Linked DNA regions of Homo sapiens. The protein of the gene in region 3 purifies or fractionates together with the protein of the main gene of each other region. This does not show direct contact. Each region holds a gene or a part of one and is shown on either strand. Other genes may lie near its edges.

Evidence for each region.
Region 1: the proteins of ARHGAP19 (region 3) and NSRP1 purify together in Homo sapiens (affinity purification with mass spectrometry, with the first as the bait; one large-scale study listed by BioGRID). This does not show direct contact.
Region 2: the proteins of ARHGAP19 (region 3) and SFXN1 purify together in Homo sapiens (affinity purification with mass spectrometry; one large-scale study listed by BioGRID and IntAct). This does not show direct contact.
Region 4: the proteins of ARHGAP19 (region 3) and CCDC50 purify together in Homo sapiens (affinity purification with mass spectrometry; one large-scale study listed by BioGRID and IntAct). This does not show direct contact.
Region 5: the proteins of ARHGAP19 (region 3) and CCDC80 purify together in Homo sapiens (co-immunoprecipitation; one large-scale study listed by IntAct). This does not show direct contact.
Region 6: the proteins of ARHGAP19 (region 3) and HACD3 purify together in Homo sapiens (affinity purification with mass spectrometry; one large-scale study listed by BioGRID and IntAct). This does not show direct contact.
Region 7: the proteins of ARHGAP19 (region 3) and FAXC purify together in Homo sapiens (co-immunoprecipitation; one large-scale study listed by IntAct). This does not show direct contact.

The regions. Positions count from the first base shown.
Region 1 is NC_000017.11:30,119,816-30,123,315, reverse strand, and holds part of NSRP1 (nuclear speckle splicing regulatory protein 1), read right to left. Parts: intron 1-3,500. UniProt on the Homo sapiens protein: RNA-binding protein that mediates pre-mRNA alternative splicing regulation.
Region 2 is NC_000005.10:175,485,060-175,488,559, reverse strand, and holds part of SFXN1 (sideroflexin-1), read right to left. Parts: intron 1-3,500. UniProt on the Homo sapiens protein: Amino acid transporter importing serine, an essential substrate of the mitochondrial branch of the one-carbon pathway, into mitochondria.
Region 3 is NC_000010.11:97,261,638-97,265,137, forward strand, and holds part of ARHGAP19 (rho GTPase-activating protein 19), read right to left. Parts: intron 3,270-3,500; coding exon 3,189-3,269; intron 1,993-3,188; coding exon 1,783-1,992; intron 1-1,782. UniProt on the Homo sapiens protein: GTPase activator for the Rho-type GTPases by converting them to an inactive GDP-bound state.
Region 4 is NC_000003.12:191,377,894-191,381,393, forward strand, and holds part of CCDC50 (coiled-coil domain-containing protein 50 long isoform), read left to right. Parts: intron 1-1,767; coding exon of another isoform or gene 1,768-1,781; exon of another isoform or gene 1,782-1,817; intron 1,818-2,265; coding exon 2,266-2,381; intron 2,382-2,793; coding exon 2,794-2,838; intron 2,839-2,934; coding exon 2,935-3,039; intron 3,040-3,500.
Region 5 is NC_000003.12:112,606,644-112,610,143, forward strand, and holds part of CCDC80 (coiled-coil domain-containing protein 80 precursor), read right to left. Parts: intron 3,439-3,500; coding exon 3,335-3,438; intron 614-3,334; coding exon 533-613; intron 1-532. UniProt on the Homo sapiens protein: Promotes cell adhesion and matrix assembly.
Region 6 is NC_000015.10:65,571,963-65,575,462, reverse strand, and holds part of HACD3 (very-long-chain (3R)-3-hydroxyacyl-CoA dehydratase 3), read right to left. Parts: intron 3,229-3,500; coding exon 3,097-3,228; intron 1-3,096. UniProt on the Homo sapiens protein: Catalyzes the third of the four reactions of the long-chain fatty acids elongation cycle. This endoplasmic reticulum-bound enzymatic process, allows the addition of two carbons to the chain of long- and very long-chain fatty acids/VLCFAs per cycle.
Region 7 is NC_000006.12:99,270,668-99,273,671, reverse strand, and holds the end of FAXC (failed axon connections homolog), read left to right. Parts: 3' UTR 1-2,504; downstream 2,505-3,004. UniProt on the Homo sapiens protein: May play a role in axonal development.

The DNA.
Region 1 (3,500 bases), on a different chromosome or scaffold from region 3:
TGAAACCCCGTCTCTACTAAAAATACAAAAATTAGCTGGGCGTAGTGGCACATGCCTGTAATCCCAGCTGCACCTGTAGTCCTAGCTACTCGGGAGGCTGAAGCAGGGAAACTGGTTGAACCCAGGAGGTGGAGGTTGTAGTGAGCCAAGTTCGTGCCACTGCACTCCAGCCTGGGCTACAGAGCGAGACTCTGTCTCAAAAAATAAAATAAAATAAAAAGAGATAAATGTGGCTGGGAACAGTGGCTTGCACCTGTAGTCCCAGCACTTTGGGAAGCTGAGGCAGGAGGATTGCTTGAGGCCAGGTGTTCAAGACCAACCTGGCCAATATAGTGAGACCCCATCTCAATTTTAAATTTTTTTTAAAAAAAGGTAAATGACATGAATATACATTTCTCCAAAAACAAAAAAGTGTCCAACATTATTGGCCACCAGGGAAGTGCAAATCAAAGCCACAATGAGATACCACTGTACACCTTCTATATGGCTACAATAAAAAAGAAATGTTAGACAGGATGTGGAAGTGTCAAAACCCTCATACACTGCTGACAGGAATGCAAAATGGTGCAGCCATTTTGAAAAAGTCTGGCAGTTCCTCAAAAAATAAAACCAGGCCAGGTGTGGTGGCTCACACCTGTAATCCCAGCACTTTGGGAGGCCGAGGCAGGCAGATCACCTGAGGTCAGGAGTTCAAGAACAGGCTGGCCACCATGGTGAAAACCTGTCTCTACTAAAAGTACAAAATTAGCCAGGCATGGTGGCACACGCCTGTAATCCCAGCTACTCAGGAGGCTGAGGCGGGAGAATTGCTTGAAACAGGGAGGCAGAGATTGCAATAAGCCGAGATCACGCCACTGCACTCCAGCCTGGGTGAAGAGTAAAACTCCGTCTCAAAAAAAAAAAAAAAAAAAAAAAAAAAAAAAAAAAAAATATATATATATATATATATATATATATATATATGAAACCAGAGTTATCATATGAACCAGAAATTTCCATCCTAGGTACATATCCAATAGAATATCCAATGGAAATGAAAACATATCCACACAAAAAACCTATACACAAGTATTTATAGCAGCATTATTGCCAGAAATTGGGAAAAACCCAAATGCCTACCACTGATAGATAAAATATGGTACATTCATACAATGGAATATTATTCAGTAATAAAAAAAGAAATAAAGAGTACTGACACGTTACAATCTTGAGAACATCATGCTAAGTGAAAGAAGTCAGACACAAAAGAAAGCCTATTGCATGATTCTATTTATATGAAATGTGCAGAATAGGGAAACCCATAGAAACAGAAAGTAAATTAGTGGTTGCCAGGGTTTAGGGGTGGGGAGAATGGGGAGTGATGGTAATGGGTACACAGTTTCTTTCTGGGTGAGGAAAATGTTCTAAACAGTGGTGATGCCGGCACAACTCTTAAAAACCAGTGAATTGGCCGGGCGCGGCGGCTCACGCCTGTAATCCCAGCACTTTGGGAGGCCGGGCGAGGTGGATCACAAGGTCAGGGGTTCGAGACCAGCCTGATCAACATGGTGAAACTCCGTCTCTACTAAAAATACAAAAATTAGCTGGGTATGGTGGCAGGTGCCTGTAATCCCAGCTACTCAGGAGGCTGAGGCAGGAGAATTGCTTGAACCCGGGAGGTGGAGGTTGCAGTTGCAGTGAGCCGAGATCACGCCACCGCACTCCAGCCTGAGTGACAGAGACTCCGTCTCAAAAAAAAAAAAAAACACACACACACACGCACACACACAGTGAATTGTACACTTTAAAAGGGTAAAGTATACAGTGTGTGAATTATATATTTTTTTAATGAGGGAAAATGATGACCAAAAAAAAAAAAAAAAGATCTTGCATCAGGACTCCATCTCTTTCCCATATATTCAATGTGGCTGCCAGGTCCTACTTATTTCTGTGGTATCGCTCACATTTTTCCCCATTAATTCCCAATGACCTCAACCTAGGTTGAGATCTCTCACCTGAACTACTAAAAAAGCCTTCTAACAAGCATTTTTAAACTCATCTCTCATTTCTCCCTTTCTTTGTTTTACAATTCAAGAGTTATCTTCCCAAAAGTGTGATGATATCACCGAATTACTCAAAAACTACTTGAAAATATAAAGTTGAAATTTTATACGAAAAATTTAAGGTACTCCACAATCTGGCCCAATCCTGTTACAACCGTATCTGCAACATTTTTTCCTATATACCCTCTTCTCCAGCCACATTATTCCACAAAAATGCCTTGTACTTGTATGCCATTCTGTATTTCTTGCTGTTCTCTCCCAAATGAAATTATTTCACCTCTATTTTTGCCTATTTAAATCTAAACCAGCCTTGAATGTTATTTAAATGCTTATTCCTGCCTTGATTTTCCTGCAACAAAGTGAATCATTTCATTCTCTACATTTCATTCACATTCTGTAACGCTACTGTTAAAACAAGGCAAGACAGAAGAATAGTATAGGTTTGAAGGTCAGATAGGCCTGTGTTCAAATCCCAATCTTGACACTTATTTATCAGCCACATGGCCTTGAACAAATTACTTAACCTGAGCTTCAATTTTCTGACCTGTAAAATGGGAATAATAATACATCAGAGTGATCCTGAAGATCAAATAAAGTATAATGAGCACACAGGAATCCTCAGTATATTAGTTTCCTTTTCATATTTCAGTTTGCTTTATATTCATGTTCACATGTCTGTCTTCCCCACTAGACTAGACACTGGTTGAAAGCAACACTATATAAGGTCCCAAAAAAAACTGTTAAAGCGTACCACATAATAAAAAGTATATAGGCTATATAGATGCAAAACTGATCAACTCTTAACCTATTGTAGGTATTAAATATCTACTAATGCAACGACATAATTAAAAATTCAAAAGTTGTAATTAGTAACTTCCTCAATATTCCATTTGAAAATATTCTAGTTGGCTACGCAGAAATGGAGATTTAACTAGTAACCTTGATTCATTTCTTATGGTCAATTATTCTAATATTTTATGAAGAAATAAAAACAGAAAAATGGAAGAAAAACTTAAGTCACTGTTAAGGGGGAAAAAATCCATTTTAAGAAAAATGTGATTCTACAACTACATGGATAAATCTGGCATTATACTGAGTGGAGTAAGTCAGACATAAAAGAGTACATACTGTATGATTTTTTTTATATGAAATTCTGTAACAGGCAAAACTAATCTAGTGATAGAAATATGAGCATTTGTCTGGGGTAGCAAGTGGGGAGGTAGACTGACTGCAGGAGGGTATGGAAAGCCTTTTGGGAGAGAGGGAAATGTTCTAAATCTTGATTGGGGCATATACATTTGTCAAAAATCATCAAGCTGTACACTTAAAATCTGAGCATTTTATATGTAAATTATACCTCAATTTTTAAAAACTGTGAGCCATAAAGAGCCAATGTCTTCAAAAGTAGCAAAGAAATATCAAATATGTTAAATTATCCACCCATGCTATTATATAATA
Region 2 (3,500 bases), on a different chromosome or scaffold from region 3:
TGGAAGGCCGAGGCGGGCGGATCACCTGAGGTCAGGAGTTCGAGACCAGCCTCAACATGGAGAAACCCTGTCTCTACTAAAAATACAAAATTAGTCAGGCGTGGTGGTGCATGCATGTAATCCCAGCTACTCGGGAGGCTGAGGCAGGAGAGTGGCTTGAACCTGGGAGGCGGAGATGGCGGTGAGCCGAGATCGTGCCATTGCACTCCAGCCTGGGCAACAAGAGCGAAACTCCGTCTCAAAAAAAAAAAAAAGAAATGCATCTGGTGTCTTCAAAGAATAGCAAGAAGGCATGAGCTGGGGCGGAGTGAGGAAGTGGGAGATGGGAGATGAGGAGGTAAGAGATGTAATGGCTCAGGTTGGAGTCAGATGATGTGGGTTATGGAGCCACTGTAAGGCCTTTGCATTTCACTCTGCAACAAATGGGAGTCACTGGAAGGTTCTGATGAGAGGACCGAAATGAACGGACGCACAATTTAAAAGGATCTCTCTGGCTGCTGTGTGGAGAACAGACAGTGGGGAGATAAGAGCGGACACAGGAGGAACAGTGACAAGGTTACTGCAGAGATCCAGACAGAGCTGGGGGGCAGCGCAGGTGGCAAGAGGTACTGGAATTCTGGGTATTTCTTCAATGGTGCCAGCAGGATTTCTTGACATCTTAGATGTGGGATGTGAGAGAAAGAAAAAGCATGGTTCCTGAGGTATTTAGTTGGAAAAACTGGAGGTGGAGAGGGCCGAGGGAGAAGACAGGAAGCTCAGATTTGCACGGAGTAAGCGTGAGGCACCCAGGAGGCAGCAAGTGGAGATGTCCAGCGGGCAGCAGAGTAAGTAGGTCTAAGTTCAGGGGAGAAGTGTAATCTGGAGATTATCCGTGGGAGTTGTCAGACAGAGATTATATTTAAAGTCATGCGATGTGATGAGATCACCAGGGAAGTGAAGGTAAATAAAGAGATCCAAGGACTGTGGTGTGAAGAGGTCAGAAAGGACTGAAGGCACAGCAAAGTGGGCTGGGGAGTGACTGGTGGGTGCAAAACCAGGAGAGAGTGGCATCCTGAAAGATGAGAGGTAAATCTATTGGTAGCCCGACTGGCCAAAAGGAAGACACCTTGGTAGCCGGTCACTTCCATTTCTGGATAGTGAAGCGGGAGGAGGTGGATTTAACAGCAATGATGGTGGTAGCAAGAGGAACAACACGTTAAACCTCCCCTCCTTGGGAAACCGTTTATTCCTGCAAAGCTGCTAGTGCAGACTGATGGTTCTGCACCAATGGAACACATCAAAATCACCTGGAGAGCTTCTTATAAAGACAAATACTATCCTCCTTCTAGAGGTTCTGATCCAGGAGGTCCAGCATAAGGCTGGGCGTGGGATTCAGCATGGCTCTGGGTGTGGACTTCATGCTGGACGGACACCAGGCTGTGGCTGTACATGAGGCCGTGAGCCATTTCCTTCCCTGCACCCTTCTTTACCCTCCTGTGCCTGCCCTCGGGCCTAGGTGATCTGTGATGTTCCCCGGTGAAGATCTGATATGGGTTTTTCTCAGAAAATTGAATACCAAGGAATCTCTCTTCCCTTTTAACTATAATTCTCACTATCACTATTTTTCCTTCATGCTTAACATAAATAATGAAAACAAAAATTAATATGTAGCTTTTATAGAATTCTAGTTCCTAATAACAAACTATCCCTAATTTGTTAAATATAAGGCAACCTTTAGGGCAAGCTGCCGCCATCACGGTCTCATTTTAGAATTGGTTACTTTATTATTTATTTATTTATTTTGAGACAGGGTCTCACTCTGTCACCCAGGCTGGAGTGCAGTGGTGCAATCATAGCTCACTGCAGCCTTGACGTCCTGGGCTCAGGTGATCCTCCCACCTCAGCCTCCCGAGCAGCTAGGACTACAGGCGTCTGCCACCATGTCCAGCTAGTTTCTGTTTTTTTAAATTTTTGTACTGGTTGTAGAGACAGGGTTTCACTCTATTGCCCAGGCTGGTCTCGAACTCCCGGGCTCAAGTGATCTGCCCACCCTGGCCTCCAAAATGCTGGGATTACAGGTGTGATTCCCTGCACCCAGCCAAAAATATGGTTACTCTATAAAATATAAGTATTATCATGTATAAGAACTGGATAGTCTGAAAAATGATTTATCCAATGCGCTTATTATGCGGAAGCTGAGGTCCAGAGGGGAAATAACTTGCCCAGGTTGCATGGCAGATGCTGGCAGCAGAAACAAGTCCGGGAGAACTCAAAGCAGGAGCAGCCTCCAGGGCACTGGCCAGCTTTCCACTCACCACTCTTTTCTAGCCATTTTTCTTGAAGTATGACACCAATTAATGTCTGCAGAGAAATGATATCTTGGAGGCCCCCCCACTTTTTTCCTTTAAATAAAAACTTGACCTTTACACTATGAAGTTCTATACTACAATAACCTTAAGGTTACTCTAAGTACAAGTGATCAAGAATGCTGTGGAGGCCTCACAAAAGATGTCTTCCTTTGTAGGCGAGGAAAAAGGAGAGAGAGGGAGAGGGGAACCCTAACATCTTAAGAATTTCCATTATATACAAGGAATTGGGCTAGATGCTGGCCTAAGCTTGCCACATCAGAGAATATTCTACCTCATTTCTCACGACAATAGTGTGATTCAGACATCCTATGCACATTCCGCAGACGGAAGAATCAGATTCTGGGATGTCATTCAAAGCCACCCCATCTTTCCAGCAAGGGAAGCAGCAGGAGTTCTTGACGCCAACTACTTATCTGCACACTCCAGTTAAACCCACCGAAATCCTGGCACTGGAAGCGCCCACTGCATGTTACCCATGATGGGGAGAACAATGGCTGCCAAAGATGTCTCATTCTAATCCCCAGAAGCTGTGAGAAGGTCTAATAAAAAATGCTGCTATCTTTAGTATCTATTTATTGAGCACCTACTACTGTGAATATGTTACCTCACATGGTGCAGGGACTTTGCTGATATGATTAAGTTAAGGATCTTGAGAGATGCAGGCATGATCCTGGAATATTTGGTTGGCCCAATGTCATCACAAGGCTCCCTATAAGAGATGGAAGGAGGCAGAAGAGGCAGAGCCAGAGAAACAGATGTGGGAACAAGCAGAGGTTGGAGTGATGCTGGGCTGTGAGCTGCAGCCCCTAGCAGCTGGAAAGGGCAGGGAAAGGGGCTCTGCCCTAGAGCCTCCAGAAGGAAGGCCCACTTGTTCTAGACTTCTGACCTCCAGAACTCTAAGATAATATATCTGTGTTGCTTTAAGCTACTCAAATATGTAGTAATTTGTTATAACAGCAATAGGAAATGAATACAACACTGTTTCCTCTACTTAAAAGGGATTTCAAGTTGTACTATAGTGGCATAAGAAATACCAACTGGATTTGATAATCTGTGTTCCTCTGCACCCAGAATTAAAAATCAAACAAACAAACATACAGACTAATCAGGAATGCCACATTAGCATTCTCACAAAAACAGCTGATCTCAAAT
Region 3 (3,500 bases):
AAAAAAAAAAACTAATCGTATTAGATTTTTAAAATTCAACACTTGTTTCTTTAAGTAGTAAAAATTATTCAAAAGGAAAAAATCTTCTATTTCTTTTCCATATAATTAGAAGAAACAGGAAAAATACTCAGGGGCAGGAAACTAAGCAACTGCAGTAATGGATATTGATGCTGTGAACACTTAGAGCCCATAGCAGCATAACAGACGTGCAATTTAAGAATGAATTCCCTACCACATGGGTATAAAGCAGTATGAAGAAACTATTTATGAGCTGAAAATGGAACACTCTCCAAGATACAGTAAGTGAAAAAAGCAAACCACAGAACCATGTGTGTAACCTATTACATAAAAATCAGAGAAAAGGAATATATGTATTTGTTTGGAAGTACACAAAATATCTCTGGAAGGATACTTTAGAAATCAGTAACACTGGTCTGGGGGCTGCGGCTCATGCCTGCAATCCTAGCACTTTGGGAGACTGAGGAGGGAGGATCACTTGAAGCCAGGAGTTTGAGACCAGCCTGGGGAACAGGCTTTCTTTTAAAAAAAAAAAAAAAAAATTTTTTTTTTTTTAAATCAGTAACACTAACCAGTGTTACTGGTGTTGGGGACTGGGTGAACTGGGTGTTGGGGAACAAGTGTAGGAGAGAAGGTTTTTACTGTATATTATTTGAATCATCTGAATTTTGAACTATGTGTTTCTATTCAGAAAACAAATAATAATTTTTAAAAAAAATAAATTTCCTTGGCTGGGCACAGTGGCTCACATCTGTAATCCCAGCACTTTGGGAGGCCAAGGTAGGCCGATCACAAGATCAGAAGTTCGAGACCAGCCTGGCCAACATGGTGAAATCCCGTCTCTACTAAAAATACAAAAATTAGCTAGGCGTGGTAGCGCGTGCCTGTAGTCCCAGCTACTCGGGAGGCTGAGGCAGGAGAATCACTTGAACCCGGGAGGCGGAGGTTGCAGTGAGCCGAGATTGCACCATTGCGCTCCAGCCTAGTGACAGAGCGAGACTCAGTCTCAAAACAAACAAACAAACAAATAAAATTTCCAAGAGTAGAGATGCCCTCAACCGAGGCATAGAAATACTGAGCAAAAACCCCAAACCAAGGCAAAAATACCGAACCTATAAACATCTGAAATATATGAATCAATCCAATGAAAAGCATACATTTATTAAGCAACTAAAACACGTTGGGCACAGTGGCTCATGCCTATAATCCCAGCACTTCAGGAGGCCAAGGTGGGCAGATGGCTTTGGCCCAGGAGTTTGAGTCTGGGCAACACGGCGAAACCCCATGTCTACAAAAATTACAAAAAAATTTGCCAGGCGTGGTGCCGCACACCTATAGTCCCAGCTACTTGGGAGGCTGAGGTGGGAGGCTCACCTGAGCCCGGGAGAGCAAGGCTGCAGTGAGCCAAGGTTGCACCACTGCACTCCAGCCTAAGTGACAGAGTGAGATCATGTCTCCAACTAAAATGTTCTACACACTACTCGAGGATCTATCAGAGATTCAAAAATAAATAAAACTCAGACGACATCTTACTACCAGCTCCTTATCTCAATACAAAGCTTATTTATCAAGAAAGCCATTCAATTAAAATTAAACTTAACTAGCCAATACCTATGAGTACCCAGAGAAGTCCAGCAACATCACGAAATCTTAACCAATATTAATAGAAGTATTTCTGTGGGTCACAAGCAACAGAAATTTCCTAGGAACTTTACTAAATTGAAAGAAATGTATTTACATCTCCTTCTTACTTCCTATACTCACCAGCGATTTTGAGGTGTGCATTGAAGTGTTTATGTGTCAGCAGAGGCTCCGGCAACTCTCCTAGAAACATCTTCAGCAAAGTGGCAACATCATTTGAGTGAAATTCCCCTGATTCCAAGTCAATGTCAGTTCCATTATTGAGAGCATCCCTTAAAATCTGCTGTCGGACACTATTACCCGGTACTCTAAACAAACCCTCTACTCGCAAGTCTGTTTAGCATAAAACAAAGCAGAGGACAGGCAAAAAGGAAGCAGAAAGATTATTATTAAAATAAATGGTCTAAAGACTACTTTACACTTAAAAGACCCTTCACAAAGCCTTTCAAGTAAGTTTTTGCCTTTTTTCACCAGGGTAGTTTAGAACCTATTGACCTCCTGAGGAGACATATCTGAATGTCCCTGAGCATTTGGAGATCTTCCAAACTAAAAGGTAGTCCTCCTGGGAGTCATTCAACCTCCTGAGGTATGGATAGACAATCTGAATTTAACCCAATCAATGGTCAGGAATAGCTTGAAAAATAAACTTTAAAAAAGCCAAATCTCCCTAAAGACCTCTTCTTGTTTATCCCAGACTTCGTTTGGAGGGGCTACATACATCTGTGGATGTTTGTGGCTCTTGTAAACTGTTTTCCCAGCCCAGAATGAATCCAGAGTCTCTGCATTGCTCCAGGAATTAGAACTCTAATGTGTCAAATTCCTAAGAGATTCCCAGAAGCTTTAGGGTCATCCCAACTAAACTATTCGTCCCTAGGCCAGGCTCAATGGCTCACGCCTATAATCTCAGCACTTTGGGAGGCCTAGGCGGATGAATCACTTGAGCACAGTAGTTCAAGACAAGCCTAGGCAATATGGCAAAATCCCATCTCTACAAAAAACTACAAAAAGTAGCCGGGTGTGGTGGTGCAAGCTTGTGATCCCAGTTACTAGGGAGGCCAAGGTGGGAGAATCACCTGAGCCCGGGAGGTCAAGGCTGCAGTGAGCCAAGATCACACCACTGCACCCCAGCCTGGGTGAGAGAACGAGACCTTGTCTCAAAAAAAAAAAAAAAGTAAAGAGTGTGTTTTAATCATAGAATTCTGGAGAAAAAAGGTACCATGCTCTCTTAAATAAATGCAACAATTCTTTAGGGACAATGTATTTTTCCAGAAGTGTCTCTCTGAGGCAAGAGGTAAATGTGACTTCATAGACACGGTCTAATTTATATACACTTTGAGAGTATAAAACAAATGAATATATGAGATGAAGTTTAAAAGGAAATATATTTAAAAACATGCCACCCAAAATTAACACTGGTTAGTTCCTTTGTTGATGGTTAATTGGCACCTACTAACTCAAGGCAGTTAGCTCTCAACAGAAAACAGAATTCTTCATTAAACAAAGAATGATAAAATTTCAAGTAGTCTTACTTTTGTGTAGATACTCAATCAGTTGGTATATCTGGGCAATGCCTTCCTCCGTCAGTGGGGACCCAAATATCACTCCTTTTTCTGAAAAACCATATGATATGACAGGGCTATATTTCACACAAATAGTACAAAATCATCATACCTAAAACCACTCAAGCATCCTATTTTACAATTCAGCAAGCATTTTCACATGGTCAGTAAACAAAAACCTTAGAACTGGAAGTGCACCAGAAAACGCGAGCAGGACAACTCTCAATCAGCTCTCTCTAAGTTCAATATTAGACTGTAGGTTCCCTGAAGGGAAAGACCATC
Region 4 (3,500 bases), on a different chromosome or scaffold from region 3:
AGTTTCTAGAGTCTGTTTAGGATACTGAGATGAGGGAAGCTAGTCTGTTAATTTCCTTCAGTTAATTACATTTAAAAAATTTTTGGACATCTTTGTTTAATGACGGCCTTACACTGCACTGTGAGTTCTTTTTCTATATCCTTACAAAAATTTTTGTCACCTTGGGTCCAGAGGACACTGCAGAGAATGGGCATCCTGACAGTGCAGAAATTTAGTATTCCAGGCTGTGGAGATTTTCTACTTAATGAGATTTACAGATTCCAGTGATACATCAAGGGTTTAAATAAACCATTTCCCCTCTAAATATTTGGAACTGAGAGATATTACCTCAGATTCTGACTCTTACTAAGTCATCATTCTCTTTTTAACTGCCAGAGGTTACAGTCTTATCACCCTGTCAAAACAATTAGACTATTCAATGGAATATTGTCTTTGGTAGAATTTAAAACAATGTGTCTTTAATAAAACTGAAAGTGAAAAATCTTCTTGGCTAATTCTGTGGTGTACTTTAGGAGGCATAATAGTGGAGAAAATTTGGTCTCTTGAAATTTGAGCACATCCCACTGTATTATTTCACTGTATGGCAAAAGTGAAGGAGGTAGGCATGTTCTGTCATCCTTAATTAAGCTTTGGGCTGCTTATTGAAGTATCATTTTTTCTATAGATTGGAACATGGTTTATATAGCAGACTATCTTGTCCACTGACATTGCCCAGTACTGAGTTCCTTATCTAATTTCATTTTCTCTGAAATCTGCCTTCCTAGTTCTGACTAAGCTAAATAACTCAGGGAGATTTATATTCTATTTCAGATGGTCCACTCTTGGGACTATGCCACTGTTTTTTTGTTTGTTTGTTTGTTTGTTTTTGCTGTCCCAAACCACTTAGAAATCTAGATTAAGCCCAGCCCAGCATAAGACTCCGTGGCTCTAGAGTTGATTTGAAGTGATCTGTGCAATCAGGTTCTATTAGGTCTGAAGCTAAGAAAGCCATGTTTACTAGTCTGTCTTTGTAGGAAATACAGATGTGTATGAGTCTGTGGCTTCTGAAGCCGCAGAAGCCAGGTTGAAAGTTGTACAAAGGTGGGCTTCACAAAATACTTACATTCTCATCATTTGCCCAGTGTTTACTTGTATTTTATTTTTTTAAAGATTAACAGCAAGTGAGTCAAGTGTGGTGAGGGATTTTGACAAAAATCATTTTAATTTACAGTAATTTTAATGGACATAATACACTAAACAGGTGATGCCAATATTAATTGCAAGTAAGAATGAACTGGGGAGATTTAAAACAAACTTACTCAAGGACAGGGCACACCCAGGCTACTTAATTTAGAATCTGTGGGGGTTGGGGCAAATATTTTTATACGTGTTCAAAGCACCCTCATGTGATTCGAATATATAGCCCTGATTGACAACCCCTGGCATAAAGAGACAATCAGGAGTACATTTTCTTTCTCCTCTGAATAGTTAATTTACTGAAATGAACTATTTCAGATAAGTAATCTTGTTCACTGTATTCAAAATTTTTATTAATTCTGAATATAATACACTCACACTGTCAAGTAAAAGTTTAAAGCCAGAATTGCTTTATAGGAATAAATTGGAATAGAACTCTGGTCATTGTGCTCTCAATATAGCTCTGATTATATTTTCCCTAAGATGTCACAGTGCTATCAGTCTGATCAAAGCTGTGGGGAAGTTCTAAAGCGAGTGGGTTTATTTACTCTCAGAGGAAAAGCCATGGCAGGACCACTGCTTGTCTCACAGGTATTATCACATGACTGCCAGGTGCTGCTGTTCCTGCTCCCTCGGAAGTAGTAAGTATGCAGGCTGAGATAAATAGAAAGAAGCCTCTACTCTCCTCCAGCCTTGACAGCTTAGCCTCTTTTAAACTCTGACTCTGTAATTTGCTTTTCTTTAAATTATTTTTGTTTTCAATGACTTTTTTTTCACTTTGTATTTTTCCAGGGCCTCACTTGCAACTTCTTACATAAATTTCTGCTGTTGCAGAAACTATGTGAGAGGGGACTTTTTACCAGGCAGGCTTGCTTAGATATCTTTGTTTAAATGTATGCATTATCTACATTGCCACTTCCATTCCTAGGGCAAAAATATTTTTAATGCACCCCACACTGTATTCTGGAGTAGAGGTAGTATTGTCATTGTTAGCTACTAAAGAAAAATCTCCTTTATCTTAAATTTCTTAACTTTTCAGAAAACATCCTCGGTTGTTTTATTACATTGAGTTTTTTTTTTTTTTTAAAGGAATGAAGCCAAGAGTGATGAAAGAAGCTGTATCTACTCCATCACGAATGGCCCACAGGGATCAGGAATGGTATGATGCTGAAATTGCCAGAAAACTGCAAGAAGAAGAACTTTTGGTGAGCAAATTTTAAGGCAAAAGTTTAGATATATTGATGGGTATTTTTTTTGTGAATCTAGTCCATCTTGAAATTATATTAATAGTCCTCTATCAATTGAGAAACCTTTTTTTATGAGTGGAAAAATCATGACAATAGGAATAGAGTATCCACTTTTGCTTAGTGAGTAAGCATTAGCAGCAAAGTCCATAACTCCATTTCTCCATCTCCATGATTGTTCTCCATAACCCTGCTGTAGGATTTGATAAAAAGAGCTCCTGCTCTGGCTGGTGAAAGCATACCAACTGATTATCAACCTCAGGAACATGAGTCACAATTATTTTCAAAAACCAGCTTATTTTGTACAAGATACTGAAAATGCACAACATAGATTCCAATTAAATTCTTTGTTTTTGTATTTTCGATATCATAGGCTACCCAGGTGGACATGAGAGCCGCTCAAGTAGCTCAAGATGAAGTAAGTTAATGAGTTTAGCTGATATTCTTTGGAAATATCCTAGTATATTTCTATCTGCACCTCTGCAGTTAATGATATTGACTGTATTTTGTTTAGGAAATCGCTCGACTTCTAATGGCTGAAGAAAAGAAAGCTTACAAAAAAGCCAAGGAGCGGGAGAAATCATCTTTGGACAAAAGAAAGCAAGACCCCGAGTGGAAGGTAGAGTGTGTTTTGTTTGTTTTCTAATTAGAAATAAAATTAGAAATGAAAAGGGGACTCTGCTTTTGAGTTAAGCTCTGCAAATATATTTAGGATATATGAATATATAAATTATCTGTATTGCATATGTGAATCTGATCTGTGAAGATTCCATCACCATGAAAAATCACTGAATTTTGGAACATATGTAAAAAGTTACTGCTAAGATTGAAAACTCATTCTGTTCCCTTTAAGACGGAGTGAAATGCAAGTGCTTCTGGTCATGAACAGTCTTAGTTTTCATATACAGTACTTTGATTATAGAAGAATATAGCATTTTCACATGCTTTCATATTTTCCACAATGAACTTCTCTTCCCGTCTCTACTTTCTTTGTGCTTACATTATCTTTCATCTCTATCATGTATCCGTTTCTCTTTCCTTTGATGTAACATGGTTTGTGGCAGACTGAAAGATACATAC
Region 5 (3,500 bases), on a different chromosome or scaffold from region 3:
CGAACTCCTGACCTCAAGTGTTCTGCCCACCTCGGCCTCCCAAAGTGCTAGGATTACAGACGTGAGCCACCATGCCCGGCTTCTCTGAGCCTTTTAGTGTATGTGTCTTTCAGCTTCTCTGAGCCTTTTAGTGTATGTCCTTATCTGTTGAAAGGGAATCAATGAGATATGACCTATGTGCCTCACAAAACTATTGTGAGAATTAAATGATATAAAATAGAAGAAAATGCTTTGTAAACCATAAGGACCTATACGGACCCCCAAAAAGCATTATTTTAGTTAAGAAAAATGGATATTTTTACTGTTACTTGGAATGGTTTATATTAGAAATAATATTAGTCCCTGTACTCCACACCCCTTCCCCTACATATCCCGTGCACACACAGGCACACATGCACAAATGCATGAAGTGGGAGGAGGATTCAATGAACTTTGTTCACCTTAGAGATACACCCACTGCTTGCATATAACTTAATGTAATTTAACTGAACTTAACACTAGTTCATACTGTTTCAAGATAACAACACATTACCATTAATTGGGAACAGTTCTAACACTCCCCCAACTTCCTCTCCAACGCCTAAAAGCTTCAGAATGGTTATGTGGCGCAGACCTGAGAGAAAAAAGAAAACCATAGGATTAGAGGAAAGGATTAGAAGTTATCTTTTACTTCAAAGCCCTGATATCTGACAATTAAAAATCTCTTAAATTTAAAAAGAATATAGAGCATAACCCGATTGAGAAGAATAATCCATTTTAAATTTTTACCATAAGGAAGAAAATACTTTCAAAACCTCAAAGAAGATGAACTGTGATTCTCATTCTACTAAATGACAAAAAAGAAAAGAAAAGATGAAGCCATGCTGGGCGCGGCGGCTCATGCCTGTAATCCCAGCACTTTGGGAGGCCGAGGTGGGCAGATCACGAGGTCAGGAGATAGAGACCACCCTGGCTAACATGGTGAAACCCCGTCTCTACTAACAATAAAAAAAATCAGCTGGGTGTGGTGGCACGTGCCTGTAGTCCCAGCTACTCGGGAGGGTGAGACAGGAGAATCACTTGAACCCGGGAGGCGGAGGTTGCAGTGAGCCGAGATCGCGCCACTGCACTCCAGCTTGGGTGACAGAGACTCGGTCTCAAAAAAAAGAAAAGATGAAGCAATTCATTGGAACATTAAAATATCTGAGCTGATCTAAGCTAGTTAGTGTTCTGAATTTATAACAGCTTTTAGGATAACTTAACTTTCAGAGAAAAGACTACAGACTCCATCAATTGTGATGGTTAAAGAAATTGAAATTGTTCTGCTTCCTCACACAAAACTGTAGTGGCTTAAAGGATATGTTTTTATCACTAATTTAGAGGATTAAAAGGGAAGACATTTAAGCAAGCACAGCTTGCCTTCATATCCTCTGCTAAAGTTTCAGGACAGGAGGGAAGGTCATGCCTTGGTAGCTTGTTGGAATTCTTTTGAAGATGAAGTGGATATGAAGAGATTCCAGAGAAAGAAAATAGGAGGACAAAGGGGCTGTCAAGCCATCATATCAAGCTTTCATAGTTTTAAATAAAGTCCCAACCTAGTCAGGATAATAACTTGGAACTAATAATAAGGTTGTTGGTGCTGTTTATTGTCCAGGAGAGAAAAGTGAACACTGCCATGGGAGGGTACTTCTAAGGAGAAGCTAAAATCTAGGCAAAATGCTATTCAAAAAAATTTTTTTTTCACCTTTACTCTTTTCCCAGAGAAGTGAACTATTCTGTTCTACATATTGGTTAGTCATGTTTTCAAAAGGGAAGATCATCAATTTAATTATTCATTAATTAATAAATGTGAACATGACTTGTTCGCATTTTGGGTATAGTACAAAAGAGTTTGCTTTCACAATGTGACATAGGATCTGTGTGCAGAGATTTAAAGATAAAGTACCACCAAATAGCTGCTACAAAAGCATCTTTGGAAAATTTAAAAACTGTGGCTTTATTTATATTTTTCTTGTAAAGGTTCTTAACTGCTGTAAGAATTTCTATCTTAACTGGCCACATTGGTGGCTATAAATAATTTAAAGTGTGCTTAAGAATACTAGCACAATCAAATTTATATGTTAATATAAAGTCTTAAATTATTAACCTTGATAATAGGAGTACAAATAAAAATTTCTGAATTTTCTATTGTTCTTACTATTATGAGTTTGGTTTTGGCCTTCCTTTGAGTTATTTCATATCTTAAAATTAAAATGTACTTATAATTTACACATACTAGGTCATAACAAGGACCTTGGCTCTGTTAATGCTTTACAAAACTTACCCTCCTCCCTTTTAAAAAACAAATCAAGCACAGTTTTGTAACTAGTAGATGATTCTTCCTCCTAATAGAGGCATCAAAATAATGGTGATTCATCTATGTTCTAATGGAGAATTTTTTAATTTGTTGCCCTTAGCTACTTCCCCCTGCCCCTGCCCCTGCCCAGTGAATCTCTCAAAATTCTTCTTCTGCAGAGGTATATCTCATATGAGATTTCACTCATGACTTCTACTTTTGAAATTGTAGTCATCTCCTTGATTTATCATTGAACTTAGTAGTAAGTTCTATATACTATTCATTTTACTGCCTATATATCCATATCCAAAATGACATTAGCTCTCTCAGGACACTAGAATAAAAATGTTTGGTAAATAAAGCATATATTCGTTTTCAAAATTCTGAGCGATTCACTACAAAAAACAGTAAACTATGTTTTTCTTTGGCCTGCTTGTCTTTAAAATAAGGTTTTATTTAAGAGATCTTGCTACTTTCTTAGTGCTCAGTTATAGATAAAAATCCTTTTTTAAAAAAAATTCTTTCACTAAGTCTTCTGAGTTTTGAAGATAAAAATCATTTTTAAGAGAAGGGCAATATAGTCTGCTTCAATTAATATATTATTCCCAGAGCCATTCCTATTTTAAAAAAGACATTTAATCTATGGAGTATCCAGTGATGGTATGTAAGTAGATATTCGAGTATTACCTAAGTGAATGGTAATACCTAAGTGAGACAATTTAAAAAAAAACTGAAGATAAATGATACAGATCATTAAAAGTAAATCAGAAGATATTTTCAAACACATGAATGAAGAAGAACTAGAGAGGAGAGAATATTGAGGGAAAAAAAAATCCACAGTTGACTAAAGCTCCAGTCTAAAAGCAACTTTATACTCAATATAGTAGAGTATGTGTCTGGAAACCTGAACAGTCTGAACTAGGAATCATTTTGAATGATCTAAGGTTCTATGTTCCATTTTAGAATTGACCAGGAGGAGAGTGGTATGGGAAAGCAGTAATGAGGTGGCTTCCCACTCACCAAAATTGCACGCCTGACCACTGAGGGCAGAGAGCTGCTGTGAATAGGCCCAGTCTTCATCGTTAGGAGCAGAGATCACCAGCAACCTCCTCCTCCACCGGAACCTGGAAAAAAAAAGCAGGACACCATTACTGCTTACTGCTTCAAACAATAAAAACCAATGTAG
Region 6 (3,500 bases), on a different chromosome or scaffold from region 3:
TAATCTCAGCACTTCGGGAGGCCAAGATGGGTGGATCACCTGAGGTCAGGAGTTTGAGACCAGCCTGGCCAACATTGTGACGCCCCATCTCTACTGAAAATACAAAAATCAGCCAGGCATGGTGGCAGGTGCCTGTAATCCCAGCTACTCCGGAGGCTGAGGCAAGAGAATTGCTTCAACCCAGGAGGTGGAGGTTGCAGTGAGCCAAGATCGTGCCACTGCACTCCAGCCTGGGTGACAGAGCAAGACTCTGTCTCAAAAAAAAAAAAAAAAACTAAAAAGTCCTTTGACCTATATACAAATGTTAACTGGCTGTTTACACTGCTTCAAAATTATAAATGTGAAATTAGGATTTATTTCATTCTAAAGAATAAGAAAAGAGCAACTACATATTCACTATAAGCAAAGTAGATATGAACATAAAATCTTGCAAATTAGAGTGTACAATATAAACAACACAAAAAAAGATACTAAGTCAATGCACTTTAAAATATTTCTACCCCTCTACCCTGTTCACTAAAATATTTTAAATGTCTTTCCAATATTTATTCCTCTTTATCTTATGCCCATTTCATGGGGCCTAGTTATACTGAATTTATACAGTAATAAAGGTAAAAAGCTGTCTTTAATTAGTACATTTTCTGAACTGAGGGTTCCTCTCTTCAAGGGCAAAACATTTTAATATTTTTGGTTGGCAATATTTCTGAAATGGATTATACCCTTTGCTGAAACAGAAAAAAAGAAAGAAATTTTAACCTTTTGCAAATGACGTGGGCCTACAATGTATACTATTTAACTGTACATCTGCCAGGCACTGGCACACTAAGGGGCTCCTAATACTATGGTATAAGTCTCTCCTCCCGCAACACTAAATGACCAAGACCACTGGGCTTTCTGGCTTCCTGGGCTTACCTTGCGTGGTCTTCCTCTCACTGTCTGGGGTAGCAAGCCGTGACAATGATCCCAACAACCTCTATCTCCTGTTATTTCATACCTTTGTGTAGTCCCCTCCCATGTTATACTGGGTTGGTCTGTGTGATGATTTGTCACTTCTGAGATTAGGCACTGTGGCTTCGGGCTCTCTCTCTCTAACCAATTGCTTTGGGGGAAGCCATGCCATGAGTAGCCATATGGAGACGGGCTATGGCAAGAAACTGAAGCTTCCTGTCAACAGCCACAAGAGTGAGCTTGGAGCAGATCCTCCAGCCCCAGTCAAGTCTACAGAAACTGCAGCCCCAGCTGACAGCCTAACTGAAACCTCATGAGACCCTGAGCCAGTACCACCCAGCCAGGCTGCTTCCTGACCTTCAGGAACTATGTGAGATAATAACTATTTATTGTTTTCAGCTGCTAAGTTTTGGGGGTCATTTGTTACACAGCAATAGAGAACTAATATACTATTGTTGCATCCTTCTGTGGCTAGGAGACTGGACAGTTATATTTATTTAGGGCCACCTTAAGTCTTTTGTGAAATAAAGCAAGGAGAAATATATAAATTACCACTAAAATGTATCAGAACTTTAAAGAGTCCTTATAGTTAGGAGCTTGTCTTATCCTTAAACATGTAAAGTTCTATGTATGATAATCAGTGTTTTCTCCTCTCAAATATATTTAATGACAAAATTCCTTTCATTCTGTTTTTATGTTCTTAGTTGTCATACTAAAATCGATACGTATTAGTTTGCTCTTAAAAGGAAAAAATTATTTTTCTCAAATTGTATTTAACCTACACATAAGAATGTATGTATTTTCACATCTATGTATAGAGTATAGTATAGATAATATGGGTAGAATCATGTATAGTTGCATTTAGAAATTACCAAATACTGATTACTAATAAATTTTTTTTTTTTTTGAGACAGAGTCTTGCTCTGTCACACAGGCTGGAGTGCAGTGGCACAATCTCGGTTCATTGTAACCTCTGCCTCCTGGGTTCAAGCGATTCTCCTGCCTCAGCCTCCCAAGTAGCTGGAATTACAGGCATGCGCCACCAAGCCCAGCCAATTTTTGTACTTTTAGTAGAGACAGGGTTTTGCCATGTTGGCCAGGTTGGTCTCAAACTTCTGTCCTCAAGTGATCTACCCACCTCAGCCTCCCAAAGTGCTGGGATTACAGGCATGAACCACCATACCTGGCCTCTAATAAGAATTTAACAACAACAACAACAAAAAAAAATCCTTATAGTTAGGAAGCCTTTTAAATTTGTCATATTTGTAATAATTTAGGTTTCTTTCTTTTTCCCTTCTGTTAGTTTATAAAGGCAGGAATTTATGATTTTATATAAATTAATAGGTCAGCAGGTTTTCCATGAGGAGCAGGGGACTTTCCTATTGTGAGGTGGAAGGCTTTATGACAACCCTTGGCTGCTCAGAGGCCTTTATTCCCTTCTTCCTTCCTTGCTGCTGGTTGTCTTATCACCTCTATAAACTCTGGATGAGGAATATGCTACTGAAATTAGTAAAAGTGGGAGCTTCTTAGTCTATTTTAAAAGGCTCCTTACTTTTTTTTTTTTAATTTTTATTTATTTATTTATTTTTTTTTTTTTTTTGAGACAAAGTCCCGCTCTGTCGCCCAGGGTGGAGTGCAATGCTGCAATCTCAGGTCACTGCAACCTCTGCCTCCCGGGTTCAAGCGATTCTCCTGCCTCAGCCTCCTGAGTAGCTGAGATTACAGGCACCCGCCACCACACCCAACTAATTTTTGTATTTTTAGTAGAGACAGGGTTTCACCACGTTGATCAGGCTGGTCTCGAACTCCTGACCTTGTGATGTGCCCACCTCAGCCTCCCAAAGTGCTGGGATTACAAGCGTGAGCCACCATGCCTGTCCCCTTACATTGTTTTAAACAAGAAATATCTTATGGTATATTCCCAATCACCAAGAGCACTTAAAGAACATAATTTAACTGCTGGAGATTTAGAAAAGAAATATTTCCTTACCATAGCATATTCCCCTAGTGGGTCTGTTTTTGCAAAGTAATCATTCTCTAATTCTGTCCCAAAAGAATTCTCATATGGACTTTTACATTTCTGAATGATTTAATTCTACTGTCTAAGAAGTGACAAGAAAAAGTCTGTATTAAAGAATCAATACTTACCTAAAAATATCATTATAAGATAAATCTGAAGAAAAAAGGAAAATCTAACTTTGATTTTCACTGGATATGGCAATGTGAAACTGAATCGTCCGGTCTCATTGAATATTGGAATGGACTGAATCACTGAGACAGCTGAAAACAGAAACAAGAACTTGTTAGAAGCAAATGAAACAGTCACATTTAATGACAGGAACTTCCAGTCCTAGTACTCTAAAGTTTCAGTTCTGGGTGTGCTGGAAAGGCTTTCTCCTCCCTTTGTACAGAAAGCTCATGCCTCTCCTTTTTTTCCCCTACTTTTCTAAGAGATCAGCCTCCAACCTGTCAACAGAGAGACAGATGAGGAAGTCATGGTAGTGGGCTTCTTCTATTCTATAAAATGGAGAGGAAAATCCCTAGCTGACTTA
Region 7 (3,004 bases), on a different chromosome or scaffold from region 3:
ACGCATGATTTTAGGTCAAGGTATTTAATTATTTTTACTTAAAATAGGCATTTTTGGTTGGGAAAGAGAAGGATGAACAATTTGATGTCACCTTTAAGACTGATGTTTTTAATTCTGCTTTTGGGACCACTTGATCTAGAATGCCTTGAAAATTCCAGAAAGATTTAACAACACACTGAGGTAAGCAAAACAAGAAAAGAAAGTAGGGGTGAGGTGATACCCAGATAATGCAAATGCAGGATGTATTGTCTGTGAATTTCAGCATCAATCTGAAAAACATGTTTTGATAATGCCTGATAATTCATCATCTCACTGATTACATGTCTTTTTTTCTATTTGTTTATAATCTTGTGTCTTCAAATGTGTGGAAGATGTGCAGACTTATTTTTAGGTATCTGAGATAGGAAGGGCCAATGTTGGCATAATTTGAACCCACATTTCGGGGCTAATGGGCGGACACCACCTGGAAACACTTACCTGCACCCTCTGTTTTGCAATCACAATGATTAGCATCTTGCTGAATGATGACCCCAATGTGAAGATGGCATTTCAGTGTTTATTTCTGGATCTATGAGTTACTTTAGCAGAGTTATTAGTAGTTTATAAAGCCATATTTAAACTTGTACACTTGATTGTAAGATAGATTTGAATTGTGCACTATGTTGACTACTGTATATAAATGTGGAAATTCTGTATATTTGGTCTTAATGCTATATGTATTTGATGTGTAAATGATAACTAATGGATATGAAATAGTTTTCTGTGAATGTCTTTCTTCCAATTTACTTCTCTTTTGCAAATTTGAATGTTTAAACTTCAGGCTCATGGGGAAAATCTGAAATGTTTGCATCTAATATACTGTTAAGTGGTGGTCTCTTAGATGACTGGGAGAGTATTTTAGTTGTAAGGCTCTTGTATAATTAAAACAGAGGTAATGAATTTTTTAGGCATATAACTTTGATAGAATTTCAAGTGAGTGGCTTTTAAGAAGAAAAACAGATCTCTGGAATATGCTGTCCCATCCTCTCCTGCTTTTATTTCATGCCCAGTGTGCCTCAGAGTGTTACGAAGTGTGAGAACCACTGGTAGAGAGAAGACAAGGAGGAGAGGGAGAGCTGGGAGCACATGTTGAGACCTTTACTATGGCTAGGCCTTATAATAGACCAATTTCCCCTTGTATAAATATTGTCTCAATTAGGCAGGGTGCAGTGGCTCATGCCTGTAATCCCAGGACTTTGGGAGGCCAAGGTGGGCAGATCACCTGAGGTTGGGAGTTTGAGACCAGCCTGACCAACATGGAGAAACCCTGTCTCTACTAAAAATACAAAATTAGCCGGGCATGGTGGTGCATGCCTGTAATCCCAGCTACTTGGGAGGCTGAGGCAGGAGAATCGCTTGAACCCAGGAGGTGGAGGCTGCAGTGAGCTGACTTTGTGCCATTGACTCCAGCCTGGGCAACAAGAGCAAAACTCCATCTCAAACACACACACACACACACACACACACACACACACACACACACACATATAGTCTCAATTAGTTTTCATACCTCTTCAATAAAGTAATTATTGTTCCCAAATTACAGATGAAGAAAGACGTTTGGGATGATAAACTGGCATATGGTAATATGGCCATGATATGCTCAAGTCTTTAGGGTCAGAGATTCACAGCAAGATTTTGGAAATTCAAATCTTACTATGAAGTGATTCACACATGTGTATGGTAATGAACCTTAAAGGATAGCTGGGCCTATAGGCATGTCAAGATCTATAGAGACATGCAGGATGTTTCAAATTCTATCTTAAAATTTGACCAAATCTTTGGTCAAATAATAATACTGTTACTCAAATATTAGCTTTTTACCATTTAGAGCAAATTACAATCAGGTAACATTCAAAATTCTAACCCTCCCTTCCCAACATGGGAATATCTATTAAGTAGGAAATGAGAGAACCCCCTAATTTCCCATTTCAGTGATAATACTGATTGAGTATCTCTTATCTGAAGTGCTTGGGACCAGAAGTGTTTTGGATCTGGGTTTTTCTCAGATTTTGAAATATTTGCATTATACCAGTTGAGTATCCCAAAATCAAAACTGGAAATCTGAAATGATCCAATGTCCGTTTCCTTTGAGTGTCATGTTAGTGCTCAAAAAGTTTTGGATTTTGGAGCGTTTCAGATTTTGGATTTTTGGATTTGGGATGCTCGACCTGTAGTTTGGTTTTCATCTTTTTAGACTCCATTTCTCTTGACCTATAAATCCTATCAGCCCTGTTTATTAACATAGACCCTAGTCAGAAATACTTTGAAATAGATCTACATCTACTTCAACGTCAGTTGGTTCCACACCCTTCTAGAACTTGTGTGGGGTCCTGGACTTCCCGTCTGTCCTGTTAGGGAAGCTTTGCTGTCCTAGCTTTCAGGACTCATCAGAGGGAAGAGGGTCATTTACCTTTCCAATGTGCTGTGATCTCAGAGTCGTTAAAATACATGTTTTGCTGCCATTTGTACTGTTTCTTGACTCAATGTTTCATATTTCTGTTCTTCTTTCCTTTTAGAGGAGAGGCGGAACAGCTGGTCTCCCTGCTCTCTCAGAAGCTGCTTGATTTGTTTCTAGATGACGCCACTGGCAGGCACTCATTAGATCTTTCACAGCTGGGCTGGTTCCCATTAGCAACAGACTTTTCTTTTAAAAACTGTCAAGGTCAGAGCAGCTTATCCTTTGGATAAAAGTGGATTTTGGAGGAAAAAAAAAAGAGGAAAAAGAACCAGCTTCCTTCCTTACGGAATTAGCGTGTTGCTGCCCCGTATGCCTAAGAGGTCTATTTTAGTGCCAGCGTTCTTGTTATGAAGACTTAGGGGGTCGTCTCCAGTGGAGGGACTGTTCGGATTGGAGGGTTACGTTCACCTACCGCAGGGTATGTTGGGCCTGGGCAAACACACTGGGTAACCTGTGCTCAACATTATATACAGGTAAATCTGGATGAAAACAAACATGAAAGGC